Linked DNA regions of Homo sapiens. The protein of the gene in region 4 purifies or fractionates together with the protein of the main gene of each other region. This does not show direct contact. Each region holds a gene or a part of one and is shown on either strand. Other genes may lie near its edges.

Region 1 (3,500 bases), on a different chromosome or scaffold from region 4:
ATGAAGCTATGAGCAGAAGCCACTACTTTAACTTGATTCTCTTGCTAATATTTTCTTTGCATTTTCTTCTGTGTCATCTTCATACCTCCACCTCAAATTTTAAAAAGACAGTTGGAAAATAAAAGAAAGCCATTTTTTTAAAGGGCTGAGAGTGTAAAAAGAAGGAGAAATTAGTTATTTTCAACCCTGCAGGACACTGGAATCGTCTGTAGAAATCCTAAAATATATCAATGCCCTAGCCCTTTCCAGGCCCTACTGATTATTTATGGAATATAAATTAGCATGGGTAGAATCCCAACATCTGTCTTTTTTTTTTAAGCTCCCAAGAAAACTGTAATATGAACTCGGGCCAAGAACCACTAGTAAAAACTTTCTCCACAAATCCTTCCCTCCTCTCATCTATTTAGTTAAATGTTAGCATTCCCAGCCCATAGCAAGGACTGCATGAACTATCTTTAAAATTGTCCATTTTTCTTCTTTCATTTACTCTGTCACAGAAGAAAAATTACTAATTTTCAACTGGAAATTTTTAAACAAGTGTGTATAGTAAAATTAATTTTAGCTTATTGGATATTCTCATTCCCAAATGCTCAGGATTTCTTTTTCAGTCTTAAAAAAACCACCTTCATTAGTAGGTATTAAGGTAAACAGCAAAGCATACAATAATAAGCAAACTCACAATATGCATTCTAGTTATCGACTTTCAATAGATATCAGAAAATACTCAAAACAATTATCTTAAGGAGCTGATTATATTTTGATACTTTATTAACTACAAACATTTGCAGAATCTCAATTATATAAAGACACATCAGCAACAATATATCCTGATACTCGTATGACAGAAAAAGTACTCAGTAAAGATCCTTTTTTTAAAATAAAAACTGGCATCACAAGATTCCACATCTTTAAGATTTAAAGATTTACATTTTTGGAGTAGGGAGAGTCAGACTGTTGTCAGATTCCCTAAAATAAATGTAGAAAAGAAAATAATGTTTTGTAAAAAATATGCATCTATAAACACTTTTTTTCAAGGTCATCTAAAACTGACACCTACTAGTTTCATCTCCAAAACAATACTAGACTATTTTTGTACTCCAAATTAGAATTTTATTAAAAGGTCCTGTAGTCATAAATTTGCACACCCTAAGACTTATAGAATACCATAAATTTTCTCTCTTCTGTCCTGATTACCTAATATATTTGCCTGCCACTTGAAAGTATTCATTGCTAGAATATAAAATAAGTATTTCACAGAAATAGAAAATAAACATGACACACAGTGGGTGTAAAGAAAAAAAACATTTTCACTTCCCTTTTTACTAAAGGAAATTCTGAATATAATTTTAACTCTAATAAATCACAGTCTAATACACTGCCTAGTATACCACCTGAAGTCAAACCAAACAAACTAAAAAAATAAATAACACAATAATTTCAAAATATTCAGAAGTCCACTAATTTTATAATGTATATTTGTACCAAAAGATATTATATGGCCAATTTCAATTTAAAATTTTAAGATAAGTAATTTTAATACATCCAATTTTAAACATAAAGAAATCTGCAAAGTATCAATACATTTGAGGCACACTTTATTCATGGTAATATACAAGGAAAGCAGTTATATATTAAAATCTAAACTGGTAGAAAACACATCCCACCCCAAGATTCTACCCCCCTCAAAAAAAAAAAAAAAATTACTGTTTTTTCTGATGGTAGAAATAATGCACAGTGACAGCTGAAAACCCAAACAATATAGAGAAGTAAATGAAGTATAAAAATAAAAATCATCCTAAATCTCACCATTTATAAACAACTGACATTAACATAAATATTCTTCCAGAAGATGGATGGATTTACTCCATATACTTACAACCCATACATATATGTATCTATGTATACATGTATAGTATATATGCACATATATATTCCTTTCATTTACATATATTGATGGTAAAGAAATGCTTAAGATCATTTTCTTGAAAATAAAATAATGAATTGTCCCAAACAGTCTGCTTTTGCATTTTCATTTAAGCAGGCTAGGTTTAAGATTATTCCATGTGTGTGTGTCTGCCTGTCTTTCTGTGTGATGTTGTCATTGTTGTTGACTGCTTGAGGCAAGCTGAAAAATTTTGTCTGTTTACTTATTTTACTGGAAAAAAAAGAAAACTTCTGGTTAAATTTTTCCAAAGCCTAAGAACACAGGTATCTGTACTAAAGGTGATTAGCTGACTGATTTACATTGGTAGCCCACAGTCCTGAGCAAAACTGTAAAGTAGACAAGATTATTATGGCCTCCTAATTCTTACTCAGAAAGAGCACTCCACTAGTAATTAGGATATAAGAGTTCTACTAATCAGGTGTGTGGCTTGAGCATTTCAATCTTCCTATGATTCATTTTAAGTCTAAAATCCTATGGTCCTTCCCTTCCTCCCCAACCCCTTACCAACTCTGCTGCTCTCAAAATATGTAAAAACCATCCTTTCCTCCAATCTCACTGGAATTCCAGGATTCAAAATAAATCCTTCTGACCAAGAAACTCCCATTTCCTCAATGCACTTATTCTCCCCTAGATATGATAAGCAAAGTAATCAATGAAATCAAAGGTATGGGCAACTTCATGGTGAGGAAGGAAAGCAACAATGCAGAAAAAAAAATTTAAACAAGTTTATAGGAAAAAATTTTAATGTAAAATTAAATGGCTTCATGAGTTTCATAGAAAAAAATTATAATCTTTCAACTTCACCACCTATTTTATTGATTCAAAGTTAGCCAATGAAAAAATAAAGTAGTGTTTTTAGCTCCTAAAATATTCAGACCCAGCCGGGCACAGTGGCTCATGCCTGTAATCCAGCACTTTGGGAGACCGAGGCAGGCAGATCACCTGAGGTCAGGAGTTCAAGACCAGCCTGGCCAACATGGCAAAACCCCGTCTCTACTAAACATACAACAATTAGCCAGGAAAGGTGGCGACTGCCTGTAATCCCAGCTACTCAGGATGCTGAGGCAGGAGAATCACTTGAACCCAAGAGGCAGGGGTTGCAATGAACCGAGATCATGCCATGGCACTCCAGCCTGGGAAACAAGAGTAAAACTCCGTCTCAAAAAGTAACTTGCCAGCCACGGTGACTCAAGCCTATAATCCCAGCACTTTGGGAGGCCAAGGCAGGCAGATCACTTGAGGCCAGGAGTTCGAGACCAGCCTGGCCAGCATGGAGAAAGCCCATGTATACTAAAAATACAAAAATTAGCTGGGTGCAGTGGCATGCACCTGTAATCCCAGCTACTTGGGACGCTGAAGCACGAGAATCGCTTCAAAACAGGTAGACACAGCGATCACTATTTATCATCTCTCTAACATCCATATCCCCCAAATTCTTCCTTCCCACAATTTTTTTAAAATATCCTCCCTCTTCCATCTAACTCAGAAAAATGTGATCCCAACACCAATTGCAGAAGGTATCTCCTGATTAGTAGAAACCAACCATGATAACCTT
Region 2 (3,500 bases), on a different chromosome or scaffold from region 4:
TCACTCAAGGCCCGGAGCTCGAGACCAGCCTGGGCAACATGTCCAAACCCCATCTCTACTAAAAACACAAAAAATTAGCCAGGCGTGGTGGTGGGTGCCTGTAGTCCTAGCCACTTGGGGAGGCTGACACAGGAGAATTGCTTGAACCCAGGAGGCAGAGGTTGCAGTGAACTGAGATTGGGCCACCACACTCCAGTCTGGGTGACAGAGCAAGACTCTGTCTCAAAAACAAAAACAAAAACAACAAAAAAAAACCGTAGTTTCAAAAATGTTCATATTACCAAGGTTGATGTTGACTTAAAAAGCAAAAAACAAACAACAGTGCTATGGACATATTTTATCATCTCTATGACAAGCATTGGGTGTCAGGAACTTCTTGTAGGCCTTGGGTGGAGGTGACTGTATGGCTTCCTTGGTTTATCTAAAAGGCAACCAAAGTCTATTAAATCTCTTGGTATACAGGGCTCTTCTCAGATATGACGCAGTTGTGCTATAAAACCATTAGGTGGTCTAGGCCAGGCGCGGTGGCTCACGTCTGTAATCTCAGCACTTTGGGAGGCTGAGGTGGGTGGATCACCTGAGGTCAGGAGTTCGAGACCAGCCTGGCCAACATGGCGAAACCCCATCTCTACTAATAACACAAAAATTAGCCGGGTGTGGTGGCGTGCACCTCTAATCCCAGCTACTTGGGAGGCTGAGGCAGGAGAATCGCTTGAACCCAGGAGGCAGAGGTTACAGTGAGCCAAGATCACGCCATTGCACTCCAACCTGGGCAACAAGAGTGAAACTCCGTCTCAAAAATAAATAAATAAAAAATAAAACCATTAGGTGGTCTAAACAGTTTTCAGACTATCAAGGGTGCCCACTCTTTCGGCTTCCTGGCCCACATTGGAAGAATTGTCTTGGGCCACACAATAGCTGATGAACTAAAAATAAATAAATAAATAACCAAAAAAAAATCTCATAATGTTTTAAGAAAGTTTACGAATTTGTATTGGGCTGTGGAATAGACAAGCTTTTAAACTTAAATTTTAACTAGAGCTTCAAGGTTTACATGAACGGATTTTTCTATCTTGTTCTTAGTGATCGCTTGCCTTATTTGGATTAGGGGTACCTGCAGGTTGTAGCCACCTTTGTATCAGAGGCGTTCGAACGAGAGCAACTCCATCTTGAGTGAGGGCTAGGAAAGTGAGGCTGGGCCTTGCTGGGCTGCATTCCCAGAAAGTCAGGCATTCATAGCCTCTAGATGTTTAAGGTTAAGGGAACAAATTAATAATGTTTACTAAACAGACCCAGACTTGGGAGTGTCCAGATACCCTGATATCTGGAGAACGAAGGCATTCCTAATTTTGCTTTAAAGATAGTATCGATTCTTGCAAAATATAATAATTAAGAAAATTAATCCTTTATCACAAACCCTTGCAGTAGAGCACATCTCCCCAAGATCTCTTTTTTTATCTTATATATATGAGCACTGTACTTAGGGTGGAAGTGTTCCTCCTCTTACTTTCAGGAACGCCCTGCTCTGTCTATGGAGTAGCTATACTTCCACTACTTTACTTTATTAATAAACCTGCTTTTACTTTGCACTGCAGACTCATCCTGAATGCTTTTTCTTTTCTTTCTTTTATTTTTTTTTTTTTGAGACAGAGTCTCACCTGTTGCTCAGGCTGGAGTGCAGTGGCACCATCTCGGTTCACTGCAACTTCTGCCTCCCGGGTTAAAGTGATTCTCCTGCCTCAGACTCCCGAGTAGCTGGGACTATAGGCACACACCACTGCGCCTGGCTAATTTTTGTATTTTTAGTAGAGACGGAGTTTTGCCATGTTGGCTAGGCTGGTCTTGAACTCCTGACCTCAGGTGATCTGCCCACCTCGGCCTCCCAAAGTGCTGGGATTACAGGCGTGAGCCACTGTGCCTGCCTTCAACCTAAATTCTTTCTTGCCCGAGATCGAAGAACCCTCTCGGGGTCTGGATCAGGACCCCTTTCCTGTAACACTTGGACTCTGAAGTACCTGAGTAAAACAGTAAGACAGCTACGATATAAAAACCATGGGGACCGGGCGTGGTGGCTCATGCCTACAATCCTAGCACTTTGGGAGGCTGAGGCAGGCGGATCACCTGAGGTCCGAAGTTCGAGACCAGCCTGACCAACATGGAGAAACCCCATCTCTACTAAAAATACAAAATCAGCCACACATGGTGGCGCATGCCTGTAATCCCAGCTACTTGGGAGGCTGAGGCAAGATAATAGCTTGAACCTAGGAGATGGAGGTTGCAGTGAGCTGAAATCGCACCACTGCACTCCAGCCTGGGCAACAAGAGCAAAACTCCGTCTCAAAAAACAAAACGAAACAAAACAAAACAAAACAACCATGGGAAGCTTTAGTAAGTTCAGATCTCTGATCCATGTCAAGCACTGCCTGGAAGCCAGGAAGAGTTGATTTTCAGAACCAACAGATCATGGTGCTATCTTTAGAAAAACAGGAAAGAAAACGCAGGAATGAAATTGGATCTTATGGCAGGTACCTTGCTTTGGGGGAGGGGAAGGACAGGCTGGCAAACAGGCCATGTTAGGGAGATTGAAAAATCTCGGCCAGGTGCAGTGGCTCACGCCTGTAATCCCAGCACTTTGGGAAACCAAGGTGGATGGATCACTTGAGGTCGGGAGTTTGAGACCAGCCTGGCCAACATGGTGAAACCCTGTCTCTACTAAAAATACAAAAATTAGCCAGGTGCGGTGGTGCATGCCTGTAGTCCCAGCTACTCAGGAGGCTGAGGCAGGAGAACCGCTTGAACCTGGGAGACGGAGGTTGCAGTGAGCCAAGATTGCACCACTGCACTCCAGCTTGGGTGACACTCCGTCTCAAAACAAAACAAACAAACAAAGAATATACCTTTCTCCAGCAAACAATTTGATTTTGGAGTACTGGATGACAAAGGTTACGTGGCTCTTCTCCTTGTACCTGTTCTCAACCCCGCCCCACCCAATTCTTTTACCTAGCACAAAGGTCTGGACATTAAACAGACAGAGGCTACAGTACCTACAGGCACACCTTTGACAGGCACCATCTGTCCTACGCTGTATTAATTCACCTCCAATCTCATACTTACTGATACTCAGCCACACAGTCCAGCAGACCTATATAGTTTAAGGTTTCATGTTGAACAGCACTTTCAAGAGCTCGCACTCCACTGACATCTTTCAGAATATGCTGGACACTTTCAATGTAACCAGACTTGAGGAGATTTTCATCTCTCTCTTTTAAGGTTTCCTGGGGTGAAAGTATGCTTTCCAAGGCTTCGTGGAACCGTTTCCCTTGTAAAAAGACGTCTGAAAAGAAAATCAGGGAAAAGGGGAGGGGGGAAACACAAACAAAGCTAACACTGAAAAACAAATACTCTAAAACGCCCTGAAACAATACAATTAAAAATGACATTTTTTTTTCTTTTTTTTTTTTTTGGATGGAGTCTCCCTCTGTCGCCCAGGCTGGAGTGTA
Region 3 (3,500 bases), on a different chromosome or scaffold from region 4:
CGTCCAAAGCATGCTGTGCTGAAGAGGATTCTAAGGCTGTGCTGCAGCCCAGAGGGAAAGAGTCATGGTCGATTAGTGATGTCTGCAGCGGGCACGGGAGGCAGGATTTAGATGAGCTTGCCAGTGACTGGTGAACCTCACCACTGTACCCCCTCCTATCTAGCAGCTTTAACCCACCCTATCTCTCCTTACATGCCCCTTCCTTAGTGACACTGATGCTAACCCCTTATTGGGAAGGACTGGCCTCCGTCTTCCTGAGTCCCATGAGCAGCTCAGGTCATTGCTTGCTGACTGTCTCTTCTCTCATTTGATGCCTCACTCCCTGTAGTGACCTCAGGGTCCAACCCCATGCTTCGTTCATGGCAGCCTCTTTCTGTACACTGAAGAATGAATAAGTGAATGAGTGGTAGAGACTCAACCACTCTACAAGGCCGGGAGCCTCCTCTTGGATGTACACCTGATGTTGATCTCTGTTCCAGCAAGGAGCCCCTAGAAGCCTTCTTGGAATTGGGAGGCTGGATGGCCACGGAAACAAGGTGCTAAACCGTGTGGTTTCAGCTCCAGGTGTTGCAGGAGTGGGGTCAGCAAGGGAGGAGGGGGCAAGGTGACTAAGGAGGGCTGAGGCATGTAAAGTACCAGGCTCTGTGTTTGTGGGGCCCGGTGGTCCTGTCTGACCTTGGCTATGGAGCAGCTAATCAGGCTTCCCCAGAGGCAAAGCTGGGAAAACCTTCCAAGCTGCCAAGAGGGGCCTTCTGAAGACCCTTCTGACTATGGGTGGGAGAACTTGGCACCTACAGCCTTCACCCTGACCCCAGCAGGCCCTGACCCCCTGTGAACTGGTGGTACCTCACCCCTACTCCTCTTGCACCCCCACACTAGTGGCCCTACCCCTAACTGTGGCCAGGCCAGGGGAGGAGCAACTCCACCATGAGGGCTTGGCCCTCATGCCTCCTCCTGCCCAGCTCTGCATGGCATGTCCCTCTGGCCTTAGCTGCCCCAGCTGCATGTGGCCTCAGGCCAGCCCCACCCAGCCCTCTTGCTTCCTGTGGCCCTGTAGAGTGGCTACCAGGACCCCTGCTGGTGAGGGCGGGTGCGGGTGGCCTGTCTCCGAGCTGGGCTTTCCTCCAGCATGGTCACCCCCTCACCCGCTCAGTTACCTCTGATATGCTGTGCAAACATATTTCTCGATGAAATGCTGGGAAGAAAAATAATTAGAGTGTTGCCTCCATTATCCAATTTCGGATTAATCAAACTCTCTTTGTCCTCGGCCAAAATCTATTCATTTCCCTTAAACACTGGGCCAGTGCCAGGCATTGATTTCCTCTATGATAACACCACGCACGCAAGCACAGCCATGCCCAGCCTTGCCCCACCCCGTGGCTGGGACACAGAGGCACTGGTGGGGCTGCCCTTGTCCCCCCAACACTGCCCACCTCCTCCAAGGAGTCTCCTGGCCACACTGACACCCCCATCTCTGTCGTGGCTCCTGGAGTGCTTGGCCTCAGTCTCCAGTGTGTTTGTCTTGCCACGCTGGCTGTTCTGGGGCTCTCCCTCCTCCCAGGATGGTGTGGAATGGATAGAGGAGGTGTGGAGGGTGTGGCCACTGCGGTCCCCAGGGACCACAGGGAATGGGCTGCAGCCCCAGGCTCTGGGTGGGCCAGGGTTTGGGGGATTATCCCCATCACTGGCACAGGAAGAAGGCCAAGGGTGAGGGCCAGGGCTTCTAAGGGGGCTGAGGGGCCATGCAATGTATGTGGGGTGGGAGCACACTTGCAGGGGTAGCAACAGAAGCCCAGCCCCAAAGGGCTTACAAGATGAGGGGACATCCTGGCTCCCGGGCCTGAGGGCTTAGTCGTGGGGCAGCATCAGGATCGGCCAAGTCCAGGTGGGCGGGGGCTGTGCGTCTACCCGTGTCCACCCAGGGAAGGCCACGGGCCTTTCCAGAAGACCTCCCAGAAGTCCCCAACTATCCCCTCCGTGAGCCACGTTGACCGATTCCTCACTCAGTCACTACGAGGGCCTGGGATTGATTTATTGGCACCTGCTTGGTGCTAGGTCCATGTGGGCACATGGGATACATCAATGAACAAACAGACCAACAGTCCCTGCCCTATGGCACAGTGGGAAAGAGGTGGGCGATAAACACTCTAAGTAAATTATACAGTGTGCTAGAAAGGGACCATGCTTGGGGCAAGGCAGCACACGTGGTGTGGCTGTGTGCGAATATGGGGGTCATTTTCCATCGTAAATAGGATGGGCAGGGAGGCCTCCTAAGGAAGGGACATCTGAGCCATTGGATGGGGAGAGGGCGCGGAAGCGAAGTCCACTTGGCTTTCTGGACAAAGAGTTTTCCAGGAGGAAGGAACAGCCAGTGCACAGGCCCTGAGTTAAGAGTGAGGGATGGTGCTAGAGAGGCAGCTAGAGGCAGCATGGCAGGAGTGGGGGAGGGGGAGCATGGGCGTGGGAGTCAGAGAGGCCAGGCATTGCACAGCCCTGGTGCCCTGGCTGGACTTTGACTCGGGGTCTGCCCATGTCAAGCAAGCGTCGGGAGCAAACATGAGAAGGTTTCAAGCACAAGTGAGACATACTCTGCCTCATTTTTACAAGGATGCCCCTGGCTGCTGGTGGAGCACAGGGCACAGGGGGCTGGAGACAGCAAGACCAGAGAAGTCATACTGCTGCAAAACAGATGAGAGGCTGGGGCTGGCTAGCGGGAGTGAGTGGTAGAATTCTGGACAGTCAGGGCAATTAAGGGTTCCCCTGAGGCTGGCTGGGTCCAGCCACAACCTGTGGTGCCAGCCTCAGTTCTCAAGGAAAGGGACGCAGGGAAGGCGTGCTGGGCATGTAGTGGACACCACTCATGCCCCTAGGTCCCCAAGGTAGGGGATGGGATTGTGGGATGCCACACATGGAGGCAGAGGGCAGGAGGTTGCAGGGCCTCAAAGACCCAGAAGGTGAAATCAGATTCCCCACTCAAGTGAGGGTTTGATGGAGTCAGCAGTTTCCTTCCCTGGGGAAACTGGGGAGCCAGGAGCCTGGGGCTACGGCTCTCTCCAAGGCAGCAACCTCTTTGATTTGGCTCTTAATGAAGGCCCCACTTCTTCTCTGCTGTCATGGCCACCCTCTCCTCCATAGGTGGAACCTTTGCATATTGATTTATTTATTTACTCCTGGCCCAGAGAAATATCTGGCTTGATTTCCTCCTGAGTCAGTGTTCCTCAGGCGACACTATCACCCTTTGTCTGGTCAGCCGTGGTGGCTGTGGGCCAAAAGACAGGACAGGTGGCTGAGGGTGTCCAGAGCCAGGACAGCACAGGGTTACAGGGAAGGGCCTCCCTGTTCATCTCATCTCCCCGGTCATCTCATCTCCCCTTCCTTTAGCAGAAGGACACTGGGAGGCCCAGCCGGGGCATAGCCTGGGGTTGTCTGTAGGATGGGGACACTGTGTTCACTAACCGTAGTCCTTCCTCCCATCTGCTCGGACTATGGCTTCAGGATAG
Region 4 (5,286 bases):
CAAAACCAAATGACACTGAAATCCTTGCCCCGGAAGGCAAGACCGACTTGAAGTCTGAACCTAATTGGATTGACAGCCTCCTAAAACACAAACCAGAAGCTTTTAACAGGACCCAGAGTCTAAACAATATAATACTCAAATGTCCAGGATACAATCTACAATTACCTCGACCACGAAAATACGACTCATTCTCCAGGGAAAAGATAATCAACAGATGCCAAGCCCATGATGACATGTTAAAATTATCAAGATTCTAACTATTATAATAACTGGGGGAAAAAGTAAACATTCCTGAAATGAATGGAATAATACAAGTTCTCAGGAAAGAATAGAAGTTATAACAAATAACCAAATGGAAACTTTAGAATTGAAAAATACCTGAAATGAAAAATTCACTGGTAGGCTTGATAACGGAAGATGCCAGAACAATCTGTGCATATACAGACAGATCAACAGAAATTATCCCATTAGACTCTGAGGCTGCAGTGAGCCTGAGGGTGCCACCGCACTTCAGCTTGGGCAACAGAGTGAAACCTTATCTCTACTAAAAAAAGAGACAGGAAAAAAAAGAGAAATTATTCCATTTGAACTACAAATTTTTTTAAAAAGGAACAGAGCCTCAAAGACCTGTACAGCAGTATCAGAGGTTTACCAGTTGTGTTTCTGGGAGCTGAAGAAAAGGAGGAGAAAGAGATTGGGATAGAAAAAATATTTCAAAAATAGCTGAGAACTTCACAAATGTAGTAAGAAACATAAATTTACATAATCAAGAAGCTCAGCAAAAATAAACTGGGGAAAAAAAAGCTGAAATATATCATTATCAAATTATTGAAGACCAAAGACTTGAAAATCTTTTTTGAAATTTATTTAAATTTTTTTTTTTTTTTGAGACGGAGTCTCGCTCTGTCCCCCAGGCCGGAGTGCAGTGGCGCATCTTGGCTCACTGCAAGCTCTGCCTCCCGGGTTCACGCCATTCTCCTATCTCAGCCTCCCGAGTAGCTGGGACTACAGGCGCCCGCCACCATGCCCAGCTGATTTTTTTTTTTTTTTTTTTTTTTAGTAGAGACGAGGTTTCACCGTGTTAGCCAGGATGGTCTCGATCTCCTGACCTCGTGATCTGCCAGCCTCGGCCTCCCAAAGTGCTGGGATTACAGGCGTGAGCCACCGCGCCCAGGCTAGTGAAGTGAAGCAGTAGGAGTAGAGGGGGATAAAAAAAATCTTAACAGCAGCCAGAGGAAAATGACACATTAGGGTTAGAGTGATAGCGGATTAAAATTTTTTTTTAATTAATTATTTTTCAAAATATAGAGATGGAGTCTCACAATGATGCCCAAGCTGGTCTCAAACTCCTGGCCTCAAGTGATCTTCCCGCCTCAGCCTCCCAAAGTGCTGAGATAATAGGCATGAGCCACTGCATCCAGCCTGATCACAGATTTCTAATCAAAAACTGTGACAGCCAGAAGTCACTGAAATGACATCTTAAAAGTTCTGAAGGAAAAGATCAATCAACCCAGTGAAATTATCCTTCAGGAATGAAAGGAAATAATGACATTCTCAGCTAAATGAAAATAAGAGAATTTGTAGCCAAGAGACCTGTTCTCAGAAAAGTGCCAAAGGCAGTTCTTCCTGGTGAAGTAAATGATAAAAAGGACGCAGGGCACTTCAGGAATAGAGAGGAAAAGAAATGATGACAAAAAGACTATTTTTGTTCTCTTAAGTTCTTTAAAATATGTAAGAATACAGAAAGTCAATGTAAAAACACTACTAATAGTATGCAGATTATATGTTTCAATGTATGTAGATTATATGTTATAAATACAACCATAACACAAAAAGAAGGTAAAGAGACTTATATACACCAACTGGTAAAATATTAACTCTGGACTATAAATGGTCAGGCATGCATATTATTAACCCTACTAGTAACCTAGTAGGGATCCCTTCAGTAACTACTAAAAACAAAAATAAACAAAAAGATACAGCCAAAAGGCTACAAATCTTTTTAGCTTTATAGATATAGAAAAAGCAAGTGACAACATTCAACATCCAATCTCAGCAATCTGAACTTCCTAAACCTGGTAAAAGACATTCATGGAAAACCTAAACTAGCATCATACTTAATGGTGAAGGACTGACTGTTTTCCCTTAATATCAGGGACAAGATGAGGATGTCTGCTCTCACCACTCCTACTCAACATCATCCTGGAGGCCCCAGCCAGGGCAATGAAATAAGAAAAAGAAGGAAAAGCCATACAGATGAGAAAGAAGTAAAACTCTGTTTGCAAATACCACGACTTTCTGCACAGAAAATCCTAAAGAATACACTAAAAAAGTTCCTAGAACTAATAAGTGGATTTATCAAGGCTGGAGGGCATAAGATCAATATAAAGTCAGCTGTACTTCTATATCAGCAATCAACAACTAGAAATGAGCACCATTTACAATAGCACGCAAAATTATGAAATAGGTATAAATCTAAAAAAATTTGTGCAGAACCTGTATGCTACACTGTTTTCATGGACTAGAAGGTTCAGTATTGGCGGGTTGTTTTTTTTTAACCTTTGACTGATCTTAAATTATTATTATTATTAAATTTTTTTTTGAGACAGTCTCGCTCTGTCGCCAGGCTGGAGTGCAGTGGCGCAATCTCGGCTCACTGCAACCTCCATCTCCCAGGTTCAAGTGATTCTCCTGCCTCAGCCTCCCGAGTAGCTGGGACTACAGGCGCCCCCGTCACCACACCCGGCTAATTTTTTGTATTTTTAGTAGAGACGGGGTTTCACCATGTTGGCCAGGATGGTCTTGAACTCCTGACCTCGTGATCCACCTGCCTCAGCCTCCCAAAGTGCTGGGATTATAGGTGTGAGCCACCGTGCCCGTCCGATCTTGAATTATTAATATTGTCAAGATGTCAATTCTCCCCCAAAACTGACCTATAGATGTAAGGCAATCCCAATCAGAATCTCAGCAGGATTTGTTCCAGATATCAACAAGTCAATTCAAAAATGTATACATAGGCCAGGCACGGTGGCTCACACCTGAAATGCTAGCACTTTGGGCAGCCAAAGCAGGAGGATCACCTGAGGTCAGGAGTTCAAGACCAGCCTGGCCAATAGAGTGAAACCCCATCTCTACTAAAAATACAAAATTGGCCAGGCACGGTGACTCACACCTGTAATCCCAGAACTTTGAGAGGTCGAGGTGGATGGATCACCTGAGGTTGGGAGTTCGAGACCAGCCTGATCAACATGGAGAAACCACGTCTCTACTAAAAATACAAAACTAGCCAGGTGTGGTGGCAGATGCCTGTAATCCCAGCTACTGTGGAGGCTGAGGCAGGAGGAATCACTTGAACCCGAAGGCAGAGGTTGCGGTGAGCCGAGATTGCACCATTGCACTCCAGCATGAACTCACAAGAGTGAAACTCCATCTCAAAAAAAAACAAACCAATAAAAAAAAAACGGGCTAGTTTTCTTCTCATGTAAACTCTTGATGTATGACGTTTTCAATTTTAAAAGGTTGAACTCATTCCAGACCAAGAAAAGGAACTGGAAACTACAAGAACTCACAGAAGATGATCAAGCCACTTTTGCCTCAAGCAAACACAAATGTCAAAAGACTTCACTGATCAACTTTATAAAAAGTACTTTAACTTGTCAACCCTACTTTTCATCCAATTTGGTCTGAATTCTGGGAGTGGGGTTGATGCGATATGTCATACAAACTGGGACTCCAAGAAAAGATTTTTTTTTTTTTTTGAGACAGAGTTTTGCTCTTGTTGTCCAGGCTGGAGCGCAAGGGCGCGATCTTGGCTCACCGCAACCTCCGTCTCCCAGGTTCAAGCGATTCTCCTGCCTCAGCCTCCCTAGTAGTTGGGATTACAGGCATGTGCCAGCACGCCCAGCTAATTTTGTATTTTTAGTAGAGATGGGGTTTCTCCATGTTGGTCAGGCTGGTTAGAACTCCCAACCTCAGGTGATCCACCCACCTCAGCCTCCCAAAGTGCTGGGATTACAGGCATGAGCCGCCACACCTGGCCAAGAAAAGATTTTTAAACCCCATTAAGATTTGTTCCTCATGGCACATGTATACATATGTAACAAACTTGCACGTTGTGCACATGTACCCTAGAACTTAAAGTATAATTTTGAAAAAAAAGATAAATAAATAAAAAAAGAAGGAAGAAAGGTCTTCTGCATTTACCCATTCAAACCAGGGTTAGTACTTGATTAATATAATATTTCAATTCTGTCTTGTTTTTTCCCCATTTCTACATTATCACATTTCCTTCCTTTCAAAACAATTTAACTTATTTTACTAATATTTTGAGATCAGCTCGTGACATTTAATGTTCTCAATAATTAGAGAAGAATTACTTTGGTTAGCCTAGAATATACTCACTTGTGTTTCTAAATTAGTAAGCTCATTTTCATCTAGATAATGGGAGGCTAGAGAGGTCCTGCTTTAAGAGTAGAACTATTGGTTCTACCAATTTTGGCTTGGAGGCACTGCGTCTGTAAGAACCAAGTGGCCCTGATACTCAGCTCTTGGTGTGAAGTGCTTTGTAAGGTTTATCTGAATTGAATCATTAGGGAAGAAGCAGTGTTAATAACATAGAAATGGTTGGCCCTGTTCACATTAATGGTTAATAAATAAGGTTGCATCATTTATGGCTTCTGGAGTCCAAAAAGGACATCTACACATATTGTTTCCATGAAGACACCACCCTTCACCCTTTCCCCAGCCTTGTGAGTTTAGCAGATGATCCTTATTCAGTGGTAAGGATAATGAAACTCAGAGAGGTCAAATACCTTTTCCAAGGTCATGGTGCTATAAGGGGCAGAAACTGGACTACAGCCCAGGTTCCCCGATTCCAAGCTTGTTATGCTGTGGTCAGATGCTAGCAGTTGGGAGTTAGCAGATATAAATAAACTGTATTTTGGCCCATTTGATTGAGATCTCTACCTATGACCTAAATTTGCCTTCTTTTCCATGAAGCATTTCCATTTCCCCTCACCCGTCTTTTTTGAGAATGTAAATTAATCTCTGCTAATTTTGCAGAATAAGCAGGCAGAGTAATACAGTATCACTAGGATAAATGAACTTTCTTCATTTATAAAAAAAAAAAAAAAAAGATTTGTTCCTTACTCTAGTCCCTATGTCTAACTTTCAGTTGTTTCATCTCCAATACTATAATCCTTCTTTAAATCCAAACCCAGCCGAATATCAATACACGGTTGCTACGAATGTAGCAACTATCATTTCACCATGTGTCACGCTCTTCCT

Evidence for each region. The genes of interacting proteins can lie anywhere in the genome.
Region 1: the proteins of CRCP (region 4) and CSNK1G3 purify together in Homo sapiens (affinity purification with mass spectrometry; one large-scale study listed by BioGRID and IntAct). This does not show direct contact.
Region 2: the proteins of CRCP (region 4) and MGME1 purify together in Homo sapiens (affinity purification with mass spectrometry; one large-scale study listed by BioGRID and IntAct). This does not show direct contact.
Region 3: the proteins of CRCP (region 4) and GNAZ purify together in Homo sapiens (affinity purification with mass spectrometry; one large-scale study listed by BioGRID and IntAct). This does not show direct contact.

What each region holds. Positions count from the first base shown.
Region 1 is NC_000005.10:123,518,677-123,522,176, reverse strand, and holds part of CSNK1G3 (casein kinase I isoform gamma-3), read right to left. Parts: intron 1-3,500. UniProt on the Homo sapiens protein: Serine/threonine-protein kinase. Casein kinases are operationally defined by their preferential utilization of acidic proteins such as caseins as substrates. It can phosphorylate a large number of proteins. Participates in Wnt signaling.
Region 2 is NC_000020.11:17,975,518-17,979,017, reverse strand, and holds part of MGME1 (mitochondrial genome maintenance exonuclease 1 isoform 2 precursor), read right to left. Parts: intron 3,335-3,500; coding exon 3,115-3,334; intron 1-3,114. UniProt on the Homo sapiens protein: Metal-dependent single-stranded DNA (ssDNA) exonuclease involved in mitochondrial genome maintenance. Has preference for 5'-3' exonuclease activity but is also capable of endonuclease activity on linear substrates.
Region 3 is NC_000022.11:23,077,019-23,080,518, forward strand, and holds part of GNAZ (guanine nucleotide-binding protein G(z) subunit alpha), read left to right. Parts: intron 1-3,500. UniProt on the Homo sapiens protein: Guanine nucleotide-binding proteins (G proteins) are involved as modulators or transducers in various transmembrane signaling systems.
Region 4 is NC_000007.14:66,134,394-66,139,679, reverse strand, and holds part of CRCP (DNA-directed RNA polymerase III subunit RPC9), read right to left. Parts: intron 1-5,286. UniProt on the Homo sapiens protein: DNA-dependent RNA polymerase catalyzes the transcription of DNA into RNA using the four ribonucleoside triphosphates as substrates.